Linked DNA regions of Homo sapiens: regions 1, 2, 4, 5, 6 and 7 are each reported to be linked to region 3. Evidence: microRNA targets listed by miRTarBase, many of them from high-throughput screens and not tested one by one. Region 3 holds a microRNA gene; each other region holds the end of a gene's coding sequence.
What was found. Region 3 holds the annotated microRNA hsa-miR-5681a (AGAAAGGGUGGCAAUACCUCUU, at 1,909-1,930, opposite strand). A microRNA usually pairs through its seed, bases 2 to 8, with sites in the 3' UTR of a target mRNA and lowers its output. Matches are read on the target gene's strand: a 7mer-m8 pairs with bases 2 to 8, a 7mer-A1 pairs with bases 2 to 7 and ends in A, and an 8mer does both.

Region 1: the mRNA of CYP27B1 is a reported target of hsa-miR-5681a. Seed matches in the 3' UTR shown: 8mer at 410-417.
Region 2: miRTarBase lists POLDIP3 as a target of hsa-miR-5681a. Seed matches in the 3' UTR shown: 8mer at 2,174-2,181.
Region 4: the mRNA of LINS1 is a reported target of hsa-miR-5681a. Seed matches in the 3' UTR shown: 7mer-m8 at 2,078-2,084.
Region 5: the mRNA of DCAF11 is a reported target of hsa-miR-5681a. Seed matches in the 3' UTR shown: 7mer-m8 at 536-542.
Region 6: miRTarBase lists BANP as a target of hsa-miR-5681a. Seed matches in the 3' UTR shown: 7mer-m8 at 2,531-2,537.
Region 7: the mRNA of ZFAND3 is a reported target of hsa-miR-5681a. Seed matches in the 3' UTR shown: 7mer-A1 at 2,305-2,311.

Annotation. Positions count from the first base shown.
Region 1 is chr12:57,760,429-57,763,523 of GRCh38, reverse strand. It overlaps CYP27B1 (cytochrome P450 family 27 subfamily B member 1), which reads left to right. Exons shown (of 9, transcript NM_000785.4): 9 at 269-1,190. The coding sequence ends at 382. Among named protein-coding and RNA genes, the nearest start is that of CYP27B1, 5.1 kb to the left of the region's middle.
Region 2 is chr22:42,583,314-42,586,408 of GRCh38, reverse strand. It overlaps POLDIP3 (DNA polymerase delta interacting protein 3), which reads left to right. Exons shown (of 9, transcript NM_032311.5): 9 at 441-2,688. The coding sequence ends at 618. Among named protein-coding and RNA genes, the nearest start is that of POLDIP3, 30 kb to the left of the region's middle.
Region 3 is chr8:74,547,422-74,550,516 of GRCh38, reverse strand. MIR5681A (microRNA 5681a) reads right to left here and starts at 1,974; the gene lies at 1,900-1,974. It overlaps MIR5681B (microRNA 5681b), which reads left to right and starts at 1,908; the gene lies at 1,908-1,967.
Region 4 is chr15:100,566,458-100,569,552 of GRCh38, forward strand. LINS1 (lines homolog 1) reads right to left here. Exons shown (of 7, transcript NM_001040616.3): 7 at 467-3,095. The coding sequence ends at 2,781. Among named protein-coding and RNA genes, the nearest start is that of LINS1, 34 kb to the right of the region's middle.
Region 5 is chr14:24,122,832-24,125,926 of GRCh38, forward strand. DCAF11 (DDB1 and CUL4 associated factor 11) reads left to right here. Exons shown (of 15, transcript NM_025230.5): 14 at 140-246; 15 at 344-2,411. The coding sequence ends at 478. Among named protein-coding and RNA genes, the nearest start is that of FITM1, 6.3 kb to the right of the region's middle.
Region 6 is chr16:88,076,392-88,079,391 of GRCh38, reverse strand. BANP (BTG3 associated nuclear protein) reads right to left here. Exons shown (of 14, transcript NM_001386991.1): 14 at 2,076-2,802. The coding sequence ends at 2,731. Among named protein-coding and RNA genes, the nearest start is that of LINC02182, 120 kb to the left of the region's middle.
Region 7 is chr6:38,152,031-38,155,125 of GRCh38, reverse strand. It overlaps ZFAND3 (zinc finger AN1-type containing 3), which reads right to left. Exons shown (of 6, transcript NM_021943.3): 6 at 502-2,891. The coding sequence ends at 2,737. Among named protein-coding and RNA genes, the nearest start is that of BTBD9-AS1, 330 kb to the left of the region's middle. RefSeq lists an enhancer at 1,469-2,089.

The DNA of each region.
Region 1 (3,095 bases), not on the chromosome of region 3:
AAATCATATAAGACCTGGTAGAATGAATCTTCTGAAATATGATAAGCCCATTATAGGCCTGGAGTGTAAGTGAGGGTATTCAAACTATTTTTTCCCTACCATAATCCCTCACCCTTATTAACCAAGAAGTCCCCTACTGGCCACAGGTGCCACCCAATCATTGACCATTCTAACACTAATAATGCATGCCCTTTACCAATTGGATTACCAATGAATCCCCCCATTATAGATATCTTTCATAGTAATGCTCACCTTCTTCCCTTTCCAGATCCTAACACATTTTGAGGTGCAGCCTGAGCCAGGTGCGGCCCCAGTTAGACCCAAGACCCGGACTGTCCTGGTACCTGAAAGGAGCATCAACCTACAGTTTTTGGACAGATAGTCCCATGGAAAGAGACTGTCATCATCACCCTTTCATTCATCATAGGGATAAGATTTTTTGTAGGCACAAGACCAAGGTATACATCTTCCCCTAATGCCTATCTGACCAAACTGGATAGAACCACCATAGTGAAGTGTGAGGCGGCCCTGACCAATGTGTGAAGTATGCACTTGGCCTGACTCAGGAAGCCAGGTGAGAAAACCATGGTCTCTCTGCTTGCTTGGCCCTTCTGATCATGTATGCATCCCCCAAGGATGAAATCAGATTTTAACTAATAATGCTGGATGGCCTGAGGAAAGATTCAACTGCCTCTCTTTTTGGGCTTTCATAGTGTTCATTGATGCTGCTGGCTAAGCATTTATCAAAGCATAAGCTCAGTAACTGTGCATCTGGTCTGTACCTGGTTGGTCCTTCGTCTTTGCATGTAAGCTCTTTGAGAGGAAGGGTGAAGCCTTATTTGTTTTTTATGTCCCCTGCCAGGGCCTGTCTCTGACTAGGTGTCACCATACACATTCTTAGATTGAATCTGAACCATGTGGCAGAAGGGATAAGCAGCTTACTTAGTAGGCTCTGTCTACCCCCTTCCTTCTTTGTCTTGCCCCTAGGAAGGTGAATCTGCCCTAGCCTGGTTTACGGTTTCTTATAACTCTCCTTTGCTCTCTGGCCACTATTAAGTGGGTTTGCCCCATCACTTAGTTCTCAGGCAGAGACATCTTTGGGCCTGTCCCTGCCCAGGCCTCTGGCTTTTTATATTGAAAATTTTTAAATATTCACAAATTTTAGAATAAATCAAATATTCCATTCTTGATTTTGACTTATTTCTCTCATATTCCCACTTCCTACAAGACCTGGAGGCAAGACTCTAACCCTCCCATCTCCCACCTTGGTTTCTCAGGTCCTGGGGGTGACCCCCATAACAATGGGAGGTCTGGACGCCTGGAAGAGTAGTTTGTAACACAAACCCAGACATGTTTCTGTCTGTAGTGGGAACATCCAAGTCTAGTCTGGCTTCCTGTAAGAGATTAAGGGGGTGGGGGGTGAAAAGTAACGGCAGGGGCTAAGCTGTAAAATGGGCCCGGAGCTAGGGATTTGCAGACATGGGCAGAGGTTGCTGACTCTGGTAAGGAAAGTGCTTTTGGACTGCCAGGATTGAAGGAAGTCCTAGATTGGTCACTTTGCCCTCTCTGGAAAAGTTGTTCCAAGATAATTTCCTTCAGAGGAAGGGATACAAGCAGAGAAGTGGAATCAGACAGACAGAATGAAAGCTGAGTGTGGGGGTGGCCAGAAGCCCTGGGGCACTGAGGCAGGATAAGGGCGGTGGGCAGAGGGAGACTGTTTCCCTAAGTCAGCATTCTCTGGCCCCCCAGAGGCTGGGCACAGCTCTCCTCTTGTGATGTATACAGATTAACTCATCTTCCATCCAAATAAATCTCTCAGCACACTGCACAGTTCCTTCTGCATCCCAGATTACCCTTCCCATGTCAGGACTTGCCCCCCTTCCCCTACCGCTCACCCTATTCCAATTAGCTGGGTGTAGATGGAGATTTCACTTCACACTTCTTCCTCCTCCACACCTTGGCCTCCTGGCCTAGACATGGCTCCCTGACCGCAGAAACTCCAGTAGCCACCAGGCCTTTTGCAGGGGCATCTAATTATGCAAGATCTACAGAGGGGCAGGGCAGACCCAAAGCCTCGTACAAAGATCAAGGTTTCTGTGCATTTTCTGCCCTTCTCAACTCCTTCCCTACTGTATACTCAGTCTCCACCCCTATTCCTCTATCACTGAACTCAATTTGAACCTAAATGACCAAATTTTCAGCAGATTTGATCTTTGAGGGAGAATAAAGCCCAGCTTGTCAGACCCTTTACCCTGGAATCAGTGATGAGAATTCTGCCCATCCGTACTCCCTATTTTCCACTGGGCAAGTAGGAATGCCCACTTGAAGAGGGCAGCAGTTCCCATGACCCTTTCCTGGACAATGATCTTTTTAAGTTGGAAAAAGGAAGAAGAGGAGACCATACTGATTGCTGGCCCCAACTCCCATACCAAGACTTCCATTAGTGCTGAAGGAGAGGGGAAAGTGTCCCACTTGGCCTCATTTTAGGACCCAGAGTGTAAATGGATACAGTGTGTTTGTGTGTGAGTATGTCTATTTTCTTTGGTATGTCTAACCTTCCCTGCAGAGCCATCACAGAGGACAGCTCAGGCTTGGCACAGGAAGCTCCACATGTGTCCTATCTACCTGAGCCCTATCTGCTGGTATAGATATTAGTAGTCACTCTGATTTGCAATCCCCCATTTGGTCCCCACCAGCTCTTCTGAGAATGGCAAATCAGTAAAGTCTGGCCTTTCTGTCTCCCAAGATGGGGGATATAGAGGGTTCTCTCTCTGGGGAAACAGTTTCCTACTGAGCAGACGGAGGGTTCAGTCTCAGTTCCCTATCCACTCTACTCCCTCAAAAATTGGAAGTTATATACTTCCACACTTTGAAATTACTTGAACCGCAGTCCAGCTTTTGTTCCTACATCCCAAGGCTGGTCTGGATGCCAGCACCATGGACAGCAACCAAGACCCCCTTTGGGAGAGGGGAGGGGACAAGGTTTCCTGGGCAAGGATGTGTGTGGGCCTTTGCAAGGGAAGCATTTTCTCCAAAACATCCCCAGGGAGGAAGGAGGCAAAGCAGAACCTTCCCTGATAGAAGGATCAATAATA
Region 2 (3,095 bases), not on the chromosome of region 3:
CTAGTGAGCCATCATCATGCCACTGCACTTCAGCCTGGGTGACAGAGTGAGATTCTGTCTCAAAAAAACCCCACAAAACCCTAGAACATACAGCACTGCCTGCGTCTCCATTTTCTCATCAGTAAATAAGAAAAACACAGCCTGGGCCACATAGCAAGACCTGGTCTCTACAAAAAATTTTAAAAATGAGCCAGGCATGGTGGTACACGCCTGTAGTCCTAGCTCCTTAGGAGGCTGTGGCAGGAGAACTGCTTGAGCCTAGGAGATGGAGGCTGATGTGAGCTGTGATTGAGTTTGCTGCGAGGTGGAATGAGATGAAGGGGTATGGAAAGTGTTACACCCAGTGCCTAGCTCATGACAGATGCCCAGTAAATGGTGGGTCCCCTCCCCATCTAAGGAAAAACTGACAAGAATTTTTGACTCTTCTCTGCTCTCCACAGGCGGCTGAGTGACAGCCCATCAATGAAAAAGGAGAGCGAGCTGCCTCGCAGGGTGAACTCTGCCTCCTCCTCCAACCCCCCTGCCGAAGTGGACCCTGACACCATCCTGAAGGCACTCTTCAAGTCCTCAGGGGCCTCTGTGACCACGCAGCCCACAGAATTCAAAATCAAGCTTTGAGCAGGGGAGTGAGGCAGCCAGAAGTGGGGGCAGAGGAGGGTGGCTCTGTTTCCCCAAGGCAAAGCTTATGACCAATGGGCCATCGGACTGGAGACCCCTGATTGTGGGAAGGGTTGCCAGGGATAAAGAGCTTCCTCACTGGATGGGACCCGCCTTTCTGTGTTGTGTTCTGCCCTGTGCTCTTCTCTCTACGTTAACGTTTCCTGTAGTATGTTTCTTCATCTCATCGCCAAGGTAGGCTTGTGTTTTTCAGTGTGTGCCTCCCCGAGCCTCAGCCCCAAGCTGATTTCTTATCTGGAAATGGTACACTGAATTCTCTGGGTGGCTTTCTTGTGGCCCCATGGGATGCAGCGTGGGGGCTGTCTGAAGGACCCTGCTTTTTCCAGGGGCCGAGGGGCTGCCTTTCCTTTGTGTGTATTAAGCTTTTCAAACAATGGAGGGGATGGAGAGCCCTGGTGTCCTGACGGGAGCCAGGTCGGCCTGAGAGCTGTGCCGCTCCTCTGTCTTGTCAGTGGAGGTGCCTGGGTGGGGAGCAGGTCTCAGGCCTCTTGTCCTCTCCCCAGTGGCTCCAGGCCTCACTAGTGGCAAGGGCAGGATGAGGCTGCACCGCTGGGAAGAGTCTATCTAAGCTCTTGGCTTGGAGTCCCGTGTCGTCTCCACCCAGAGGAAGTTCTCCAGAGTTCACCTTTCCCTTTTCCTTGAGTTGTGCTGAATGCCCCACCCCAGCTCTCTTTCCCTTCTGGGTGTCTTTGCTGGGAGGGGGCTGTGTTGTGAGCCCTCCCGGTTCTCACCTCGCCTGGCACTTAACCACACCCTGGTTTTGTGTAGCCGCCAGCTCTCTTCTGGTTGGGCCTTTGAAAGGCTCAGCCTCCCATTGTGCAGTGCTTGGGTTTGGAGCTTATTTGAATGGAAGAGGTCAGTTTGTTCCTGGCTCTCCATTTCTGGCCTCAGTTGTCTACAGGACAGTGGTCAGGGATGCCTGGAGGCATATATCCAGCTGCCACCAAGGGGCACTGTTTGTTCCCACTTATGTGAGTGACCCCATCCATCCATGACCAGAGGATTATTTTCCTGCCTTGGCAGAGGAGGAGGAGTCAAGGGAGCAGGGCAGCTCTACCAGGCAAGGTGTTTCCCCAGCATAGGCGCAGACAGTTGGGACGAAACTTCAGAGCCCAGGCAGTCCCTGAATGACCAGGCCAGTGTTGTCACTGAGTGGTCCCCTGCTGGTTGGGAGTGAAGAGAATCCAGGCTGGCAGAGCTGGAGCCAGTTGGGGAGCACGGTTCTGGGAGCTCTGCAAAATCAGTAGCAAGTGCTGGAAAAGGCACATGCCGAAGATACTCAAGAGCTCCCAAGATTTGCTTGAGGCTAGCCCAGTGAAAAAAACCAGAGACTCATGTTTCCAGGGGTCAGTCTGTCAGGCAGGAAGGACCCAGGATTTGAACCCAGCTTCAGTGTGCAGGCTCTGAGGCTGCCCAGGACGGGAAAGTCCAAGGAAGGGGCCTGGTGGTGCTCCACTTGCAGTTCTTTAAAGAATGCTGCTTTTTATTCTCCTAACCCTTTCAAGTGGGTGCAGACTTCTCGTTAGCAGCTGGAAGACATTCCTCCCACACTTTTCCCTTCCTGGCCCAAGAGAGCATCCAGAAGGCAGTAGGACCTGGTTTTTCAGGTACTGGGAGCCGGGGGCTCACTGCTTGCACTGTGCTTAGGGTAGGGATGGTAAATATCCTCCCTGCATGGCTTTATCCTCCCTCTCATCCCAAAGCAGGTATCTTCTGGTTGTCACAGAGTTTCATTGAGTCCAGCTGCAGCCACGTGGCCATCTGGAGCTGGTGCTATAGGTGACCATCTGGTACATTGAGGGGACCTGTTTGCCTCCTCCACTCTATAAGCAGTCATCTTGGGAGACCGGGAGGAGAAGGTGGTGGGCTAGTCCTGTGTCCTCCTCCACTTCCCATGCCTCTATGTTACCCATCTGTGTCTCCTGTGCAGAAGGAGAGGAAGGGGCATTAAGAGATGAAGGGTGATTATGTATTACTTATCCATTTCTGAATAAACATTTGTTATTCCTACCTTTGAGTTATCTTTTTTTTTTTTTTTTTTTTTTTTTTGAGACAAAGTCTCACTCTGTTGCCAAGGCTGGAGTGCAGTGGCACTATCTCAGCTCACTGCAACCTCCGCAGCCAGACTCAAGTAATCCTCCCACCTCAGCCTCCCAATTAGCTGGGACTGCAGGCGTGCATCACCATGTCTGGCTAATTTTTGTAGAGATGAGGTTTCACCATGTTGCACAAGCTGGTCTTGAAATCCTGACCTCAGGTGGTCTGCCTGCCTCGGCCTCCCAAAGTTGGAATTAACAGGCGTGAGCCACCACGCCCAGCCAAGGGTTTTAATCTTGCAGGGATTTCAACATTTGGGGTGGAACTTAATTATTTAAAAAATAGAGACAGATTCTTGCTATGATACCCAGGATGGTCTT
Region 3 (3,095 bases):
TAAACTGACAACTAAGTTGCACAAAAAAATCAAAGAGGTGGCAGCCAGGATTGTAAAAGTTGCCTAAAGGTCAGCCAGAGGCAGCCATTGCTGACTTGGAGTGGCTGTAGCATTCTGAAAGAATCCTGTACTTCAAACACCCTTTCTTACCTGCTTGCTGAGTGGTTTCCATGCAACGTATTTGAAAAGATTCAAGAAATTTATGCACAAAAAAGGAAAAAGAATCCACTGCATCTTTTCCTCAGTTTTAGTTCCAGGTCTTCCTCTAACAAGATGTGTGATGTTGGGCAAATCATGTAACTTCCCTGACCCTCAGTTCTCATAAAAATTGTAGTTTTGACTAAATGATTGTAACTCTCCTAGTTCTAGTGTCTAGTTGTCTCTCTCTTATTTAAATTGGAAGTTGGTATAGAGAATTAGAAGAAAACTTCAAAGTACTATAATAAATAAAAGATATAGGAATCCCCAGAACTCACAATAAATTCTAATACCATTATCATAAAGATGATACCAAAAGTATTGTTTCTTATAATGTGTATATTCTCTCCTTTTATCATAATTACTAAAAATATTGTATTATAGATCCTTAGCCCATTACTTCCAGCAATACACTGTATATAATTTCCCAGATAATGTGCAAAGTGTTTTTTCACCCTTTTTCCAGAAGCATGGCGATAAATGTAATTAATACAAAATGTTTTAAAACAAATAACTTTTAAAAAAAATTACTTTAGGCCAGGTGCAATGGCTCACGCCTGTAATCCCAGCACTTTGGGAGGCCAAGGTGGGCAGATCACGAGGTCAGGAGATGGAGACCATCCTGGCTAACATGGTGAACCCCATCTCTATTAAAAATACAAAATATTAGCCAGGCGTGGTGGTGCACACCTGTAGTCCCAGCTACTTGGGAGTCTGAGGCAGGAGAATTGCTTAAACCCGGGAGGCAGCGGTTGCAGTGAGCCAAGATTGCACCACTGCACTCCAGCCTGGGTGACAGAGCAAGAGTCCACGTCAAAAAAAAAAAAAATTACTTTTACTACAAGCAAACCCTGAAGCATCCTGGACAGTCTTGACCTGTGAGATACCCTCTTACTTCCACAGTCATGGAAACTATGCATTTTCCAGATGGCATATAAGACCCGATACCTATGTTTTTCTAGAATCCCTTTGCAGTGGACTTTTCTTCTTCCTAAGGCCCATGGTGCGTGCATGGTCTCTAATGAACAGATGGCACTTGGTCCCTGGATGAGCTCTTGTACCTGCAAATCTTGAGAGCTTGGAGACAAGCAAGAAAATCATTTCAGACCCTCTCCTCCACTGTCAGCACCACTTCCCCACCCCTTTCACCTTGATCTGCTTGGTTTTGTGTTTTTGGGAAAACCCACTAGTTATTGGTCACTACCTGCTCACAAGTCAATGTAATGCTCCCCGTCTTGTTTCCATCTTGGTTTTCCTTTGTTTAAGAGGATGAAGCCACTTAGGACCCCTATATGAATGAGACTTGTTTGGTTGAAAGTTGACCCAAAGTAATAAGTGGTTTATTGTAAAGAGGAAAGAGGTCTATAAATAGAAAACCCTGGGGGACTGAGGCTGGCCTCAGGACCAGGGAATAGCAGAACACAAGTGTGCAAGTCAGAGAACTAGCCAAGAGTTTATAATCAAGCTTCTAAACAGGAAGTCTCAATTCAACTTCAAAAATTACTTTATAAAGAATTCAAGTGCCATGAAGGCATGTTTTAACTTGGCTTCTTTGGCTCAGAATAGTGTATATTGGTATCTCTAGTGGCTATCCCCTTCCCATTGTTAAAAACAACATGTGAAAAATCCTACAAAATAGGTAAAACACATTTTAAAGTGCCATTGACTGCTGAGGCAACTCACTTAATATCAACAAGTCTCAGTTTTTGGAAGAGGTATTGCCACCCTTTCTAGTCTAATAGGGACTAGAAAGGGTGGCAATACTCTTCAAAAACTTCACAAGGAAGTTGTAAGGAATATATGAGATCATCTATATAAAGCCCTTTGTGAACAATAAATCACGATAAACATAGACTTGTTGCATCTATCATATCACTTAGGGTTTTTTTTTTTTCTCTCACAGATTAAGGTAGTTCAAAAAGGAAGCCAGAATTTTCACTTTCTCTTTATTTCTGCTCCCAAAGAACCGTCAATTGCTTAAGGGATTGCTCCCAAAGAGCCTGGAGGTAGAGGACAGGAGGAGGCAGTTGTTTATTTAGTTTTTTGAAATGTTTCCAAGGAGAATGAAAACTAAAATTTGTGTGTGTCCTTTTTCATTTGCCTTCTGTCTAAATTGGAGTGTGGACAAAGGGCAGCCGCTTTGCTAGATGTGGACATTTGCTGAGCAGTATACTGTGCTCCAGTTGCAGGTGGATAGTGCCTAGCACTCCTCATTAGCTCATGGTTCTGCATCACATTCTTCAAAGAGCTGCTAAAGCACCCACACACCACCTGCCTGAGGGTGCAGCCAGGGCTGAGTGACATAGTGTGTGCCTCTCCTGCAGGTGCATTAATAAGGAGCCACAGGGGTTATAAGAGGCAGAGGGCTGAGAAGATGTTTCCTACAAATGGATCCGAAACACAGCCTGTTTGTATATGTGCAATTCATTGGCTTCTTGGAAACAATCCTTTGCCCAAAGTAACAGTTTATAATCGTGAAAATGTGACTAAACTTTAAAAGTACATGAGGAAAAGGACTATTTCTATTTTGCCGAGTCCAAGTTGGATTTGACTTTGGCCTTTCCATATCCCAAATGGTATCCACTGTTTTCAGCATTTTGGCCCTGAGAACAGCTGGTGAAGAAATTGATTGAGCTCAGAACAATCCTTCAGATGTCTAGAATAATCAACCACCTTCCATAATTTCAGTCTTACTAACTACGTGATATGGAGTGCACAGAAATCTGATTGACAACTCAATTAGTCCAAATTCCAGTTTGCTGCCATCCACACATCCACAATGTGCACACAAAGGTCAGCTAGTTTATAGAAGAGAAGAAGAAATGGGAGATTTATAATCGAAGGATTAAAGTCGATCACTAATGATCACTATTTAAACAAGGACCTGCTGTTACTTG
Region 4 (3,095 bases), not on the chromosome of region 3:
AAATTCAACAAGCTGTATACTTATAGTGCACTTTTCTGTATCTCTTCTGCTTTAAAATAAGTCAGGTGCACAGCACCATGTGCTCACTTGTATTTCCATATTCTTTTACTGGAAGGGGTGAGGTTACAGACTCCTCTTGTGTTGTACTCTGGGAATTCACTGTGCAGACATGCATCAATAGTTTTGTGTTCCTTTAAGAAGTAACTCTGGGAATAGCGCTTAGATGCTCAGAAAGGCCAAGGATAGTGATCACACCAGCCAAGGGTCACCTTTAGCAAGAGCAGGGCTTAGTGAGTGTGTGATGAATTGACTTACACTCGAGTTAGTTATAAATGTAGAGATTCTGAAACACCAACTTCGCATATCTGTAAGATTGCTTTTCCCTCATTTTACATGTAATGAGGGGCTGACAGTTCCTTGCTAACCTTATAGAGAAACACAAGTCAAAACCACATCTGCATAAGCATGAGTTATAATGCATTCAACATTTATGTACCCTTAGGAACAAGAGTCGATTTTTTTTTCCCAGTTATTTCCATCAAAAAACAGCCATGTGTCACATGACAGGGACATGTTCTGAGAAATGAGCTGTAAGGCAATTTTGTTGTCATGTCATGTATGTCACAGAGTATACTCAACAAACCTAGATGGCATAGCCTACTACACACCTAGGCTATATGGTATAGCCCATTGCTCCTAGGCTACAAACCTGTACACAGCATGTTACTGTACTGAATACTGTAGGCAACTGTAACACAATAGTAAGTATGCGTGTATCTAAACATGCCTAAACATAGGACAGTCACAGTAAAAATAACGGCTTGATAGTCTTATGGGACCACTGTACTATGTGGTCTGTTATTGAAACATCCTAATGCAGTGCTGCATGTATCCCACTAAAAATAGTACAAAAAGATGAGACTTTGTCTTCCACATCAGACCTGTCTCCCAAGGCAACCACTATTATGACTTTCTTATGTAGTCTTACATACATATTTTATACATGCACAAAAGCATATATATGAATGTGTATTACTCCCGCCCTGCTTCTTTCCCTAAATAATTGCAAGCCCCATGTATTTACTTGTTTTTTACTGGAGATGTTTCACATCCACAAACGTGCATAGAACGCATCTACCATTCCACTGACTATACAAATTCTGACTTACTTTACCAGGTATTTCTAGTAAAACTCTAAAACCTTAACATTTTTTACAAACTATGTGGCATCCTTGAATACACATTCTTTGACGTGCTTTTTCAATTACGGTAGAAACTGCCTTAACGCATAGCCTCACCGACAGCATGTTAAAACGCAAACCTTTTGACCTTTGCATTGCTATTTGGCTAACACTGGTACTTCGCTGTTATTTTAATCGGCAACCTTCTATTTAGCTCCACTGATTTTTCCATGTCTACCTGAATTAAGTACTAAACTGTTTCGAATACCATAGCCTTAATATATATTTTAATGTGCGGTAGGTTTAGTCTTTGTTCTGTTTCTCTGCAAAGAGATCATTAAAAAAAAATGTACAGGCAATATTTTAGACTGCCTTAATGCCAGACTTCGCAGCACAATATAGCTATTGCTCCTATTACACAAACATATTACAATGGAATTTACGGCTTCCCCTCAAGAATATGGAACATAATTATTCATGTCACAATTTTAAATAGGAAAATTAGTGATTAAATTTTTTTTTAGAAAGAATCATGTTCATACAGTAGGCCAGGTATAATCACTTCTCAAAGAAACGGCTAAGATTTTACATTTGTAATATATCGCTTTCTGTGTAAATACCCCAGAAGGAAATAGTAACTGTATTTGGTTAGTGACTCTCCTGGATTCAAGTCCATCAAGGACACATGAAAGTGGCCATATCTGGGATTAGGGTCTTTGCAGCTGTCATCAAGTTGAGATCATACTGGATGAGGGTAGGTCCTAGTCCAATGACCGATGTCCTTGTAGGAGGGAAACTGGACACAGACACAGGAAAATGCCATGTGAGGCAGGAACTGGAGTGACGCCACTACAAGACAAGGGACACCATGGCTGGCTGGCTGCCACCAGAAGCCAGAAAGGGGCAGGGTGGGATTCTTCTCCAGACCCTGAGGGCATTGCCCTGCTGAAGCCTGAGTTTGGATTCTGGCCTCCAAAACTATGAGGATAATTCCAGGTGTCTGAAGCTGCGGCACACGTGGCAAGTTGTTACGGCAGCCCTAGCTGAGGAACGCAATCACCACCCCCGATTTTGTGTCACTTAGAACTGCCATAAATCTCCAGTGGTATATAGCTATAATGAGTGACTTGTCACTTGATGTCTCTTTTTCAGTCACTAGGTTGCTTCCAATAAGGCAAAAAGTAAGAACTTGTCTAGAAAACCCAGCCGGGCACAGTGGCTCATGCCTGTAATCCCAGCACTTCGGGAGGGCGGACAGGCGGATCACTTGAGGTCAGGAGTTTGAGACCAGCCTGGCAACATGGTGAAACCCCCGTCTCTACTAAAAATACAAAAATTAGCTGGGCGTGGTGGCGGGCACCTGTAATTCCAGCTACTCGGGAGACTGAGGCAGGAGAATTGCTTGAACCCAGGAGGTGGAGGTTGCAGTGAGTCGAGTCACGCCACTGCACTCCGGCCTGAGCGACAGAATGAGATTCTGTCTCAAAAAAAAAAAAAAAAAAGAAAACCCTTTTATGGTGATGATTTTATACTATTACCTCATTGAGACATAATTTATATTAAGGAAAAACAATACCTGGAAAATAAAATGTCAATGTTTTACAAAGTGTTCATAGTTTTATTACTTATCACCTCTATGTATTTTAACAACTTCAAAAGTGCAGTTGGATTATATGGGAAAAGATTTTTCTTTTGCAAACGGCAGATGGCATCTTGTAGTTCCTGGAAGCATTTTACTATTCTGTAAAATATTCCCACTTCAGAGACGACATCATTTGGGGCTACTTCACAATCAAAGGAGAAGGCAGTATCAAATTCTTTCAGAACCAGAGGCCTTGATGGAGGCTCAAGGCTAAATTCTTTTTTATCCCTGCTTGTCCCAGCTGCATCCTGAATCTCCTTAGTTGCTTGCTG
Region 5 (3,095 bases), not on the chromosome of region 3:
TCTTCTGGTGTGGGCTTTGCTCCCATGGGAACATGGGAAGTTGCCTGAGAGGCAGGTCAGTGGTGCTACTCATGGGGAGGTGAGGGATAGTTTAGATGTCTTGTGGTGGTCCCTCTCCACTCTTGCCTGTCCTGGACAGTGTACGACCTTCTAAGTGGCCACATTGTGAAGAAGCTGACCAACCACAAGGCCTGTGTGCGTGACGTCAGTTGGCACCCCTTTGAAGAGAAGATTGTCAGCAGTTCGGTGAGGTTGCAAGGGTTGAGGGTGCTGGCACATGTCTGGGGCTTGGACTTGGGTGGGGGCAGCACATCCTGACTGCTTGCCACCCTCTGCCCTGCAGTGGGACGGGAACCTGCGTCTGTGGCAGTACCGCCAGGCTGAGTACTTCCAGGATGACATGCCAGAATCTGAGGAATGTGCCAGCGCCCCTGCCCCAGTGCCCCAATCCTCTACACCCTTTTCCTCACCCCAGTAGATCCAACCTCCAGCCCCATATAGGGTGAACCTCTTGATAAGCTCTCTGCCTCCTCCTCCCTTTCTCCCTTGTGGGGAATGTTTGGAGGAATCACTGGCATTTGATGGGGAATAACATAAGCCTGGGCTCTGAGCCTCAGCTGAGCCCTGGAAGATTCTCCCCATGGGGCAGAGTGGTCTCCTTACGTGCTCACACCCAGTCAGCTTGGGTCCCTATCTCTGGCCAGAGTTTGGCAGGACTGCCATTATCTGGGGTGTGGCCTCTGCCAGCAAGAGAAGTGTCCTGGGTGTTTTTAATCATGTTTGAATGTTAGGGGTTGGATCCTAGAGTAGATGCCTGAGGCCACATCTGAACAGACCTGTCAGCCAGGCCTGCCAGGTCTTCACGTTGAGGATTCAACTGGCCAATCACAGGACAGGTGTCCTGGCCTTTCTTCCTGAGGTCTCTAGGGGAGGGGCATGGGTAAGGGTGTTTCCTCAGCACCCTCCTGGGGTGGGGATTATGTCTGCTGTCATGTCTGGGTCTTTAGGGTAGGACAGGCTGTGGTATGAGAGGCAGGAGTCTCCACAAGGCTTCATGTGGCCCCTTATAGGGCAGGCCCTGCCCTCTGGGAAGGTCCCTTCATGCTGGAGGCACACAGCTTTAAGGAAGTAGGTTGAAGTAGGACTCCTTCGTCCTCTCACTGGCTTTGGCTCCCTCAATAAACTGTGTGGGAACCTGGCTCAGTGTCTGTCTCTCTCTCTCACTCTCTGTTTTTCCTATCTGAGGTCTTTCATCTCCTCACTTCAGGAAAACACAGTTCAGCAAAGTCTTCAGATGCGATCCTGTGTAGGAGAAAATACCCTTCTGGTGCCCCATGAAAAAGGGAAATACCAAAACCATTTGTTCACTGAGCCTTGCAATAGGTGCTCCCTTACCAATTTCAGAAGCTTCCCTGCAAGTAGATATCGAGAGAGCACACTTTCCATTAGAGCCTGGTAATACCCATATCACCTCTGCTCTGAGGCTGGGCCTGCAGCTGTGTAGTCTTTGGAAGAGGTAGCCCCTGAACGCAGAGCCTAAGAGAAGCAAGTCGGCCCTGACGCCAGGCCCCAGTGGGCGCCTCACACTCAGAACCTCATACCCCAGAGCAAACCGATGGTCAGGGAGAGGGCTAGAGCTCACACCCAGCTCGGAATAGATCTTCCCTGATGACATTTCATGCCCTCTAAGGCAGTTTTTAAATGAAGGTACACACATCCAGGGGTGTTCACAGGCTTTCACAGCAAGGGTACCTATTTCATGGCAAAATAGGCAGTTTTAAAAGAATAAACAAGCTAGGTGTGGTGGCTCATGCCTGTAATCCTAGCACTTTGGGAAGCCAAAGCTGATGGATCGCTTGAGCCCAGGAGTTTGAGACCAGCCTGGGCAACATGGCAAAACCCCATCTCTACAAAAAATACAAAAAGTAGGCCGGGCACGGTGGTTCACACCTGTAATCCCGGCATTTTGGGAGGCCGAGATAGGTGGATCACCTGAAGTCAGGTGTTTGAGACCAGCCTGGCCAACATGGTGGAACCCAATCTCTACTAAAAATACAAAAAAACTAGCCGGATATGGTGGCGGGTGCCTGTAATCTCAGCTACTTGAGAGGCTGAGGCAGGAGAATCGCTTGAACTTGGGAGCAGAGGTGAGCTGAGTGCAGTGAGCCAAGACCATGCCATTACACTCAAGCTTGGGCAACGAGAGCAAAACTCTGTCTCAAAAAAAAAATTAGCCAGATGTGGTGACGCATGCCTGTAGTCCTAGCTACTCAGGAGGCTGAGGTGGGAGGATCACCTAAGGCCAGGAGGTCAAGGCTGCGGTGAGCCGTGATTGTGCCAATGTACTCCAGCCTAGGTGACAGAGTGAGACCCTGTCTCAAAAATAAATAATAAATAAATAAATGTTCAGATCCTTGGCTTCTGTGTTCTCATTCCTCAAATTGATCTACCTAGTGTGAAACTCCCGTGCCAGATCTCCTTTCCCATCCACGCTTTTCATTCCCCGTCTGCCAAGTGATAAAGTTACCTAAGGTGCTACCCATCTCACCCAGAACCTGTGTTACTTCCAGGGCACCAAATTAAGAGAGAAATTCAAATTGTTAGTATCCTTATAGCTTCATTAGATCAAAGCCCCACAGACCGACCATTCTCAGTAAGAGATGCATTTACAATATAATTTTATGTTATCGAAGTAATGTAAAATGTTTGTTGTACAGGCATACCTAGGAGATATTGTGAGTTCATTTCCAGACCACTGTAATAAAGTGAATATTGCATAAGGCGAGTCAATTTTGTTGGTTTCCCAGTGCATATAAAAGTTATGTTGTTTTTAGGCTGGGCACAGTGGCTCATGCCCGTAATCTCAGCACTTTGGGAGGCCGAGGCAGTGGATCACCTGAGGTCAGGAGTTCAAGACCAGCCTAGCCAACATGGTGAAACCTCGTCTCTACTAAAAATACAAAAATTAGCCAGGTGTGGTGGCAGGCGCCTGTAGTCCCAGCTACTCAGGAGGCTGAGGCAGGAGTATCGCTTGAACCTGGGAGGCGGAGGTTGCAGTGAGCTGAGATCGCACCACTGCACTCCAGCCTGAGCCA
Region 6 (3,000 bases), not on the chromosome of region 3:
TGTATGTTTATTATTCTCTTTGTCCATCGCTCCATCTTACTCTAGGCACCTCCCCTGGATTCATACTCCTGCTCTTCAAGAAAAATTCCTAACAATTCCCGGTAAAGGAGGTGTCATCGGAAATGACAGCTTTTTTTTCTTTTGTGAGACAGGGTCTTGCCCTGTCACCCAGGCTGGAGTACGGTGGTATAATCATAGCTCACTTCAGCTCAACCTCTTGGGCTCAAGTGATACTCTCACTTCAGGAACTCAAGTAGCTGGGACCACAGGTGCGTGCCACCACACCCAGCTCATTGTTTTGTATTTTTTTGTAGAGATGGGGTCTCACTATATTGCCCAGTCTTGTCTCTAACTCCTGGGCTCGAGCAATCCTCCCACCTCAGCCTCCCAAAGCGCTGGGATTATAGGCGTGAGCCACCGCACCCGGCCTCAATTTTTGTTTATACATTTTTTTAAGTATCACCTAATTCTTTATTTTTGTAATTTTGAGATAATTTATATGCCAACAAATTCGCCCTTTTAAGTGAAGGATTCAGCGACTTTCAATTCCACAGCATTCTAATCACCCAAAAAGAAACCCCACGCCCATTCGCAGTCACTCCCAATCCTGCCTCACCCCAGTCCTTGGCAACCACGAACCGGTCTCTCTGCAGTTGTCTTTTCTGGACATTTCGTATCAATGGAATCAAACAGTAAGTGGTCCTCTGCACGTGGCTTCACTTGGCACAGCTCCTCTGAGTGCTGGCCGGGATGCAGCACGCATCCATGTTCTGTTCCTTCACGTGGCTGGATGACGTCCCATTCTTTGGACAGTCAGCTTTGTTTCTCCCTTCATCTGCTGATGGAAACCCAGGTTGCGTCTACCCTGTGGCTGGTATGAGCCGTGCTGCTGGGCACAGCCAGGCACAAGTGCATGTGTGAGCAGCTGTCTTCAGAGCTCCGGGGTGGATCCCCACAAGTGGAACTGCTGGGTCAATTGGTGGCATGTCACTAGCATCCTGAACAACAGGTTCACTGAAGACCCAGCCCCACACCGAGAGCTCCCTCCTCTGCACCAGTGGCTCCCCCTCCACCCAGCGGCCAGTGGGTGCCCACGCCTGCTGCCTTGCTTTCATCCCATCGCAGGCATCTGTCCTTTCTCTCTGGCTGCTGTCAAAATTATCTCTGCCTGTGATACTTGAGTGTGTCGAGGCAGAGACTGATGTTCGTTTCTCCTTGGGGTTCTATTCTACTTCCTGAATCCTTGAAATGCATCTTCCTTCTGTTCTCTCCATTCTCTCCTGGGATTCCAGTCATACACGTGTGGATTTGACTTTCTACACCCTGCCTCCCAGCTGGTCCTTTCTGTCTCCTGGAGAGTGGCCAAGCTCCGGTGACCTCCTGGGAGGCCTCGGCCCGGCTCCTTGTGGTGGCCATCTTCAGAGGCGGCCCCACCACGATGGAGACGCAGAACCCATGAGCGCCATCCCCCTTTCGAGAGCAGCTCATCCCAGACCCTCACCCCCAAGGGGACCCAGCCCAGGATCCTGACGGGGTGGAGCAGGCTGGAGCTACGACCGTCTGGATGGCAACGCGGAACTCCTCCCAGAGAAAGCCCAGAGAGGCCCCGCTCTAAGTCAGCGAACACGGCTTCACGTAGGCCCTTCCCAAGCCCCTAACGCAACTGCCACAACGGTGTAGGTGAAGCAGTCCAGGCCCGGCTGGTCACCAGGGATTCAACTGCCTCTGGCACTTCTATTTGCAGATATTATCTCTGCCTTAAAAAAATCTGTAAATAGTAGGGCCTGCCCCTGTGGCTGCAACTTTCTCTAAGGACCCCAGGACTGTGCCTTCTGGAGCTGGCAGAACTCTGTGGTTTATGAGAACAAGAAGTTCCACAGCTGTGTCCTAAACCAGGTTTCCCCTCGGCAGTGCCTACAACACGGAAACAGAACTGACTGTCCCGGGGTGCCCACACCTACTGTCTGCACAGTGGAGAGGGCAGCAGCGTGGCCTGAAGGCCAGCGAGCCCAACCCCCCAGGGACAGGCACTCTCTGGCGAACCGTCTCGCAGGAGGAAAAGCGTAAGGCTGCTGTGGTCATAAATACATTTTATTTCATTAGAAATGCATAATTACAGTGTTTAAGAGCATTTCCCCTAGAAAAGTAGGTCAGCAATACCCCATCGGAACCGAGAGCTGGCTTTGCAAACACCTGCCTCATGACACTGGACAGAGCACACAGCAAAGGGCTCCCGTCTCATGACACTGGACAGAGCACACAGCAAAGGGCTCCCGTCTCATGACACTGGACAGAGCACACAGCAAAGGGCTCCCGTCTCATGACACTGGACAGAGCACACAGCAAAGGGCTCCTGCTACTCCCCTGGGATTTTTTTTTTCAAATTTTCTTTTTTGTTATAAACACCATAGCAAATTAAAAAAAGCTGTTTAAACAGAAAAATATCATAGTTCTTGATTTCCCGCGCATATGCGACGCTCTCCGCACCGTGCCTCCCCTCGTGCTCCGACACCAACAGCAGGACTCAAACGAAAGGGGTCTCCGGCTGGGGGCGGCGGCGGCTGCTCTTTCAGTTGATAGGATGCTGTTCCCCGCGGAGGCAGCGGCCTTCAGACGCACTTCAGCAGAACACGTGCAGCCGCTGCCTGTGCCGAGGCCGTGAGAGCAGGGCGCGTGGGGGCCGGGCCGTAGGCGGAGCCGGCGAGGGGCTCCTGGTGCCATGGGCACCGCTCACTGAATCTGGATGGCCCCGTGCTCGAGCTGCATCTCCGGCTGTAGCGTGGGCTGCAGGGCTTCGGCCGTCTGCAAAAGGGAGAAAGGAGGGACTTTCTAGAAAAATACCCAGCACTGCATGGCCAGGGGGTGTCATGAACAGCCAGTGACTTTAAGGCAGAATGAGAAACACGCACACAGGAGCGCGAAGGAGCCCTGACGGCCCCAAGGCTCACCCGACTTGGTACACAACGCCTGGCTCCCAGCGGAACGACGCGCCCACGACCC
Region 7 (3,095 bases), not on the chromosome of region 3:
TTTTTTGAACATTTAAAAATGTAGTTAAGTTCATCCTATACACCAAAGAGTGCCACAGCACACACCTCCTCCAAGCCAGCCTTTGGGAGCCTTCGTCATCCATCCTGGAGGCCCTTCCTAGGGTGGGGTTCGGGTCTAGGGCATGCTGCCTTCCCTCAGGACCCAGCACCCACCCCACCCACGCCTGGGGCCCTCAGGGCTGGGGCTCGTTTTCTGATCCCCCCCAGTGTGTAACCTCCTGGCTGCTGGCACAGGCTTGGCCCTGCAGACCCACCTTTACCCCAAGGCCAGTCCCGCAGCTTCCCAGGGCAGAGGCTCCCAACAGAAAGCAAGGAAGCGGCTGTTTAGCCTGGACACTAACTGGACGAGTGCCTCCAAGTACTGCAGACGGTCTCTGCACACAGGCCCCCATCTCTTTCCAGCCCTGGCCAGGGAGATGGGTCAGTTTTCCCAGCAACCCAGGGGGCACTTAGGAGAAGGGGTGAAACAAGAAAACCAAACTTTCATACGATTGGTTTAATTTTTTTTTTCAGCAGGAGAAAAAAGAATAAAGTTACAAGATTCTTTTAATATTTTCACAATGTTAAAACTAAAACTGAGCTCTAGGCTATGTGTGTAAGTAAATCTAGAACACAAAAGGGTTAAATAAGATTTTCTCTTTTAAAGATACAAGAATTTAAGCTTTCCTTACATTTAACAAACTTCACAGAACAGATACTGCAGGGGAACAAGCCCCACCCCCCACCCCCCCCAGCTCTAAGTCAGGAAGCGAACATGGGCTTCGCTCCCCCAGGCCAGCTCCCCTGGGCTCCTTCCCATGGCTGCCTCCACGCAGCAGGCAGAGGAGGGGGCGGGGGGCCCTGGGGAGGGCCGGGAAGGGCTCGCACAGCCTCTTCGGGACCAGAGCTTGGCGGAAGCCTATGGGGGGCTGCCTCACTGAGGATGGCCCGTATGGTGGCCAAGGGCTGTGGCTTGACAGCAGTGGTAAACGCTGGGCAGACCTGGCCCCTCTGCCCTGGGTTGCCCTAGAGCAAGACACCGGTCTGGGTCCTGAAGCAAGAATTAAGGCTGGGGATTTTGCAGCGGGTTCCACTCTGGTGGGTGGAGGGTGGGAAGAGCATGACTTCCTATTTCAGTACGTCGGATCAAAAAACATTTGCAGTTGCAGGTGTTCAGCTGTTAATTTGCAGACAGAGTTGAACCATTTGTTGTTTTATAAAAAGGAAAGTTGCTGGGTTAAACTATTCCAGTAGCCTATGTGTGGGCAGATCCACGCTGCCTCCGCAGGGGCCTCCTGCCCTCACCCACCTGGATCTGATGCGGCACTAGGACCACTGGGACTGCTCACCCTGCCTGGGCTTTCAAGGGAATCCTGATCCTGTCCACCCAGCCCCAGCCCCACCTGACTGGTAGTGATTTCCTAACATGGGGCAACCAGGCCCACCCCCACCCTTCCCCACCTGGCGTGCGCAGTTGCAGCTGCTGAAATCCTCTGTGAACATGAGGGGGCACAGGTGGAGAAATGTACCCTCAGGCCCTCACCTACCAGAGCAAATATCACTCTCGGAGCTGGGCCACAGCCACAAACCGCTGTTCTAGACAGATCCAAACCCACTGTCCCTGGGACGTATGCTGCCTTCCCTTACTAAACTTGCTATATGGTAGATGTGGACTGGGTGTCCTTGGACTATGGGGCTGCATAGAAACGAGAATGGAGGCCACGACATCATCCTCTTGGCCCCTGGAGGCACGGGCGGCTCCAGCTGGAAGGGGCAGAGCCCGTGGGCGGCAGCTTCCCCAGCTGCTGCTCCCAGCACTTCTACTGATTCTTGTTGGCTATGAAATGTCTTTTTAAAAAACTCCCAATATAGAAATCTGGCTGCAGAGGCCAGTGTGCAGACCCAGCCACCGCGCTGTGCTGCCATTCGCCACATCTGGTCCGTGCCAGATCCCTGCACTGGCGAATGGCAGACCAGAGCCGGCGGAGGCGGGGCACTCTGGCTGCTTCTCGTGACCTTGGATCCTGTGTAGAAAAGGCGGGTCTCGTTCGTGGACTAGTCTTGAGTGGAGCTAATTTTCAAAGTGAGGTTACTGTTTCTCTTCTTGTGTGATGAGTTTTTTCATAGCAAGTCAGGTAAAAAAATTTCCGTAAGAATCTGTCCCCCACCCCCCATTTCCAGCTCTGTGGGAGAGTGAGGCCACCACCCAGCCCAGCCACGTGGCCAATCTCAGCAGCCTCCCGTGGCCAAGGCACACGTGGCCATCAGGTATCCTGGCTACTGGGACTAAGGATAAGTGAAGAGGTGAAAGGCCGATCATTAAACAGAGTTTCTGGCAAAGCCATGTGCGTCGTGGGAACTTTAACACCAGCTTCTACTCCTCTATTAACTCAGAGTCTCCGTCTGGAACACTTTCCACTTAAGGCTTTTTATAAGTTTGACTCCAGCAGTGACAGGTATGTGTTGTTTTAAATCCACTAGCCATGCTCAAAAAAAAAATATTCTTCATGTTTTAATTTTATACAATGGCTAGCAGGCACCTTAGTAACCAGCCAGAAATCAATTTCAACCACCATCAACCCCTAAACTACAGTACCAGGATGGCTGGCTAAAGAAAGGAAACGGACTGGCTGCAGTCTGACGCGTGCCCAGTACAAGGTGTCTGGCTGACTTTGTCCTAAATAAGGCTAACATTAGTGAACTAAGAACAGCGTCACGTGGTGGCCATGCCTGGCCTTCAGGAGCACCCCTCCCCGATGCGCTGGCAGGAGCGCCCCACTTTCCGGTCCAGCTTCACCATTTTCATGATGGCTTCCTCCCGGCCACGGCCCATGTGGTCGAATGTGCAGTCGTGCTGCTCGGGGAGGCGATGTAACATACAGAACACATAACCTGCAGCAGCGGGAGAAGCAGAGGAAAGAGTGTGTTAGGGTGGCCTCCAAGTGCGCAGAGCCTCACAATTGCCTTTGTCCAGAGGATGGAGGGGCATCCCAGTGAGTGGACAACACTCACTGCAGGGGTTCCTGATGCAGCAGAGAGCTCACTCCAACACCTGCACCCTGGAGCAAGAGGGTCAGCACTTTGCATTCCACAGCT